Regions from separate parts of the Homo sapiens genome. Here region 1 is linked to region 2. The links come from fine-mapping of genetic effects on gene expression. A gene starts in region 2. The other region holds a variant in brackets. All regions are shown on one strand. Distances are from middle to middle.

Evidence for each region.
Region 1: its variant is fine-mapped to the expression of MIR210HG in whole blood (TOPMed, PIP above 0.99).

Annotation. Positions count from the first base shown.
Region 1 is chr11:618,724-621,617 of GRCh38, forward strand. It overlaps CDHR5 (cadherin related family member 5), which reads right to left. Exons shown (of 15, transcript NM_021924.5): 5 at 2,839-2,894; 6 at 2,622-2,732; 7 at 2,357-2,527; 8 at 1,573-1,663; 9 at 1,344-1,441; 10 at 958-1,158; 11 at 751-864; 12 at 583-667; 13 at 1-457. Among named protein-coding and RNA genes, the nearest start is that of IRF7, 4.2 kb to the left of the region's middle. RefSeq lists an enhancer at 1,376-1,981. The variant G/T (reference allele first, on the strand shown) is at 1,876.
Region 2 is chr11:566,979-569,872 of GRCh38, forward strand. MIR210HG (MIR210 host gene) reads right to left here and starts at 1,479. Exons shown (of 2, transcript NR_038262.1): 1 at 1,374-1,479; 2 at 1-875. MIR210 (microRNA 210) reads right to left here and starts at 1,220; the gene lies at 1,111-1,220. RefSeq lists an enhancer at 2,411-2,894.

The DNA.
Region 1 (2,894 bases), 52 kb after region 2:
GGCTGAGAGGTTCCTGCCTCTGGGGTCTGTGCTGTGCCCCCACCGGGTGTGGCTGGTTGGTGGGAGGTGCTGGTTCCCATACTGGGGGGCATCGGCTGAGAGGTTCCTGGCTCTGGGGTCTGTGCTGTGCCCCCACTGGGTGTGGCTGGTTGGTGGGAGGTGCTGGTTCCCACACCGGGGGGCATCGGCTGAGAGGTTCCTGGCTTTGGGGTCTGTGCTGTGTCCCCACCGGGAGTGGCTGGTTGGTGGGAGGTGCTGTTTTCTGCACCCGGGGGCCCCCCGGGTGTGGACGAGGTTGGTGGCCTCAGAGTTGTGCCAGAGGGTGGATGAGGGCCTGTGCCTCCCCCAGAGCTGGTCGTGGAGGGTCCCTGGGAGGGCTCAGGGGGTCTGGGGACCTCGGAAGTGGTGCTGGTCCAGGGCCCAGTTGTTCCTCCAGCCTCTGGGGATGGGGGGACATCTGGGGGCCGGGAACAGTGCTTGGGCTTGCCTCTGCCCGCCCCTTGCACACCTACCGCGGGAAAGGAGCCACCGAAGGGGCTTATTTGGAGAACCCTGGGGGCTCACCTGTGGAGGGGGGCTTACCTGTGGAGGGGGGCTCCTGTTCGGAAACTTGTATCTCAATGACTGTGGTTGCGGTGCCAGAGGTCACCGTGTTGTGGGCCTCAACCTGGGGCAGGAAGGGGCTTGTCCCTCCTAGACACATCTTTAAGCCCCACACCCTTGGAGATGCCCGCCTGCCCTGCCCCGCACCTCTGCGTAGAAGGCTCCCGCCTGTGCCAGTGTGGTGGTGGTCAGCACAACCTCTCCCTCCATCCGGAAGTGTGAGTGGTTGGTAATTCGATATGTGATGGCCGAGTTGAGGTCCTGGACAGGGTCTCATTGAGTCCCCGGCCAGGCTGCCTCCCACGTACAGCCCTGACCCACCCACAGAGGGGAGGCCTTGGATGCACTCTCTACCGAGAACTCCGGGTCCTGAGCCTGGATCCTCAGAGGCTGAGAAGGGGCAGCTGCATCCTTGACCACAACGCCCGCTCCAGCGCCACGCGCCACGGTGCCACGATACAGTCTCTGGGGGAAGCGGGGCGGGCTCCCGGCCGCAGCCACAGCCTCCACGGTGACCTGGGTCACTGAGTAGCGGGCAAGGTCGGCCTGTTGGCCCTGGAGGCGGGGGAGGCAGCAGTGACTAGTGGGGTTGAAGGTGGAGCTGGCGCTGAAGGCTGGGGCTCAGGAAAGGCAGGTGCAGACTTGGCGGGGGCCCTGCCCCGGCCCCCCAGCCCTGACCCCCCGCCCTACCTTCCACCCTTCCCCCTCTGCCCTGCCCCCCATGCAGGTGCCCACCTCACCTTCACCAGCAGAAGGAAGGTCATGGGGCTGGGGACACTCCTGGCCACGGTGAGGTTGCCCGAGTCTGGGTGGATGATGAATGTACCATTCACGTTTCCTGGGAGGATGATGGAAGTGCTCAGCCCCGGCCCCCTGAGGCCCAGGGACCCAGCCAGCTCTGCCCAAGGTGGGGATGGAGACAGGGACAGAGGGGGTACAGGGCATTGTTGAGGGCTGGGCCCCACTCACCCCTAAAGATGCTGTAGATGATGGGCTGGTTGATGCCGCGGTCTCCGTCCTCAGCGTAGATGGGTCCGGGACGCAGGACGAGGGGAGATGGCTTCAGGGATGGCGGAAGGGAGGGCACGTCGTGGGGCTGGGGTGGATGGCCCCAGCCTGGCCCCTCTGACTCCCCATCAAGGGCAGGGTTGGCTGAGGAGGGGCCCAGTCCCGCTGGTGGCCGGGCGTCCCTGCCTGCCTAGGACAGTCCCTTGTCCCAGCATCACAATCAGTAACACCCCTGTGGGTCCCTTACTAATGAATGAGTCCAGT[G/T]GCCCAAAGATACTGAGTCCCATTTGCACAAGGCTTGTCTTGACGGGTAAGCAAACATTTAGGAAGTGGGGGCTCCCGGGGTCTGCATTTCTGCCTCCCATGTACTGTTTGGTGGCCCCAGGTGCCTTGGTGCCAGGAAGGTTTGCAGACAGCCTGTGTGGGCCCAGTGGTGACTGTGAGCAGGGCAGAGATGTCAGCATCCCTTAAGAGCTCCAGGGCCCCAGCCCACCTCCCCAGGCCCCTGAGACCGCCTGGCTCTGGGGCCCACGCTCCTCCCTGTGTGTTCAGGGTTTGCTCCCTCACCGCTCAAGATGGGAAGGGTTGGTTTACAAGGAGAGTCTGCATTTGTTTCAAAATCACGACCGAAATCGGCCCCACCCCCTGACCCCGACCCCGCCCTTCCTCTCCTGATCCTGGCCGTCCCTGTGTCCAGCCTGCCTAGAAGGCCCTGCCCCGTGCACTGCCCCTCCCTCCCCATTACCAGTATGTGCCCCGTGGGGACAGCCCCGTGGTACTGAGCTTGAATGCAGACGTAGCCATCTGAGAAGGTGCAGGGCAGGAACCACGGGGGCCGCAGGTCGGCGGGCACCACGTTCAGCACTAGTGTGGCGGTGGCAGTGTGGCTGGGTTCCACATTCTCCCCCGGAGTGTCCTGCAACAGACGGCTGTGCTGGATCAGGCCTGGGAGCAGCTGGGGCCGGGGGGCCTCAAGTGTGTGGGACTCGGGGCTGGGGTGACCTGCTCACCCGCACCAGCAGCCAGAAGGTCATGTTCGGCCGCTCGTAGAAGTCCAGGGGCCGGTCCAGCCTCAGGGCGGGACGGTTTACACTCACCAGGGAGAAGTAGTCACTGGCACCCTGGGGAGGGTCAGGGAGGACAGAGCCTAAGAGCCTTGGAGGGCGAGGGCGGCTGTGGGTGTCAGAGGCGAGGGGCTCGTGCTGGGGCAGGGTGGGCGGCACTGACTGCTGTCATTTCCTGGAGGGTGTAGAACAGAATGTCGTCCTTGTCGCGGTCCTCAG
Region 2 (2,894 bases):
AAAAGTGGCCAGAGTGCTTCAGATCACTCAGCAAACCTTTGAGTTGCTGAAAAGTTTACTTTTGAGTTTTAAACTGTACTTTGAAAACTATATTGTGAACTGTGTTGACATGAGGAAAGGCTGGGCTCCCTGAAAACATCCAGTTCCACAGCAGGGCGGGCCCAAGCCCAGCCAATCCCCAGGCAATGCAGGGCAGGGATCCCACCTGGTGTAAGTACGGGCAGAGGGCAGAGCCAGGCTGTATCGAGGGGCGGCGCTGGGACCCTCCTCGCCCAGAGTTCCTACTCATCCCCAGCACAGAAGTGCTCTGTAGGGCCAGCTGAGGACACCCCGGTTCACTGAGGGTGGCCCACAGTAAGTCGCCGTCTGGCAGTAAGTTAGCTCTGCAGGTGTGGACCCCAAGACCACACACAGCCTTTCTCAGGTGCAGGTCCTGCCAAGCCTCACTTCGCAGTGGTGACAGGCAACCCCGTCAGGGCAGGGAGCTTCCAAAGGCCAGTCCGAGTCCATGCCAGGCGTCCACTAAATCTGCCTCTCCCTCTCCAGCGAGCAGGTGCAGCCCTCAACTCCTGCAGGCCTGGGGAGCGGAGACAGGGCCTGTAGGCTCGGACACGACCCGGTCCTGATTTTAACAGTAGACTTGAGAAGGCAGGCTCAGCAGACAGGCTGCTGGAGGATCCACCCGCTGTCTCCCGCAGCGGCCCCACTGAAGCGGCAGAAACACACAGAAGCACCAAATCTGTCACTCTCTTCCCGTAGGAAGTCCCCAGAGGTGGCCCTCCGGAGGATGGTCCTGTTGGCTGAAGATATGACCACACCTGTGCCTGCCCAGGGCCACCTTCAGCTTGGCAACAGGAACTCCGCACACTGGTACCCTGGACACACAAGGAAAAGAAAGTTCCCTCCAAGAGGGTATCTGGCCCAGCCTCAGCCCCACCAAGCGGAGGGCAGCAAAGCCCCCGAATGATTTCGCTTACCCCCACCCGCCGTCCCTGCTGGCCAGACAGGCACACCCCGTCCATAGGGCACCCCCTCCCCACGGTATCCAGCTGCCCTCGCGTCCCCGTGTGGCCGCTCGCCTGCCCGCCAGACCCGGACACGGGGCCAGGAGGGTCGCGCTGCCCAGGCACAGATCAGCCGCTGTCACACGCACAGTGGGTCTGGGGCAGCGCAGTGTGCGGTGGGCAGGGGCTGCCCTGCGCCTGGAGGCACTGCCGGGTGGGCGGGCGGAGGGATTGACCCCACCCCCGTCCCCTCCAACTTGGGCGTCCGAGCCCCGCCGCGCCTGCCCAGCCCGACCCCCCGCAGCCCCCGCGGGAGGGCGGCCTCTGAGGGGCGCCCCGCCCGCCAACCTGGGATCCCTCGCGCGTCACCTGCGACCCCGGCGCGGGGCCGTCGCCGGCTCTCGGCCCAACTTCAGCTGCGGCCGCTGGCACCCTCTCGCCCCCCGGCCCGACCCGACCGGCCCCGGGCCCCGCGGCTCCACGCCCAGCCCCGTATGCAAATGACCTGGTCCCTCAGCCAATGGCCGGCCTAGCCGGGCCCGCCCTACCGCAACGCAGCCAGTGGGCGCGAGGGGGGTTCGCGACGCCCCGCCCACCGCCGCGCGGCCCTTCGCGGGCGAGGCCGGCGCGTTCTTTTCTGCACGTCTGCCCGGGGAGGGGCGGCACCTGCCGGGCGGGGCCTGCGGGGCGCCAGCTGCGAGGGCGCGGCGGGGCCAGGGCGCGTCCCCCGGCCGGGCGGATGGTACGGCCCGAGGTGGTCCTCCTCCCGCCGCGCGGTGGTATGGCCCGGGCTCGCGGGGCTTCCGGGCTGGGCGTGGGGCGCAGCCTGGCGACGGGTCCTCCGCCCGCGGGTGTGCGTGGGGCGGCAGGGCCGGCCGGGAGCTGCCCCTCTTCCCGCGGCGCGGTGGTACGACCCGGCCGCCTCCGTGCCCCGCACCCGCGTCCCGCGGGCCCGCCCCCCCCAACCCGCTGGGCGCCCGGCGCACGTATCCCGGGCCGTGACCCGGGTGGGGCCTGCGCGGGCCCGGACACGGCGTCCTCGGGACGCACGCACCACCCCCCGGGCGGCTTGGGGTCCCCAAAGGACGCCCGGGTCCGTCCTGCTGGCGAAGAGGGGGCTCTGGCTCTGCCTGGTTTGCCTGGCGACCCCCACGGGGCGCCCTTGGGGGCTCTGGGTCCCTCCTGCGCGCTCTGTCTCCGCGGAAGCCTCTGGAGCCTGGAGGGGGTGCCTCAAGGGCTCAGGGGTCTTCGCAGCCCTGTGCCGGTCTTTGAGGGGACGAGGCGAGAGAATCCTGTCTGTGCGCTGAAAACGTGTAAAATCAAAGGAGCCTTGACGGTTTGACCTTCGTTAGGACTCGCAGGGCCAGCTTCAGACGTGGAAGTATCGGACTCCGGGGTGGGGCTCCAAAGTGGCAGCCAAAGGAGATTTGGCCGCCGGCCCCCCTTGGCACTGTCACCCTGGTCCTCGGCCCCGGGCCGTCTCCCCTCAGCTCCCTGGCCCTAAACTCACCGCCCTGCTCTTTGTCCTCCCCTGGCCCCATGACCTCCCTGCCTCGGCATCCGCGCAGGCCTGGGCCGCAGCCTGCCCCCTGCCCCAGCCCCGGCGGCAAAGTGCTGGGGCCCCAGGGAGCTTCCGAACCAGCCCATGTCCTCAGGGGCTTGAAGGCTGGGGACAAAAATTCAGATGCAGAGTCTGGGGTGACTCAGACATGATCAGCAAGACATGACCGAGGTCTTGCTGACCCCTTGACCCTTGGCCCCCGATAGAACCGAGTGGCTCCTTGCACCTGTGGCTGCCTGTGGATGGGGAAGGTGCCCAGAGGATCACGGAGCCACTCGGTTCTATTGGGGGTCAGGGGTCAGCAAGACCTCGATCCTGTGGGTCGTGAA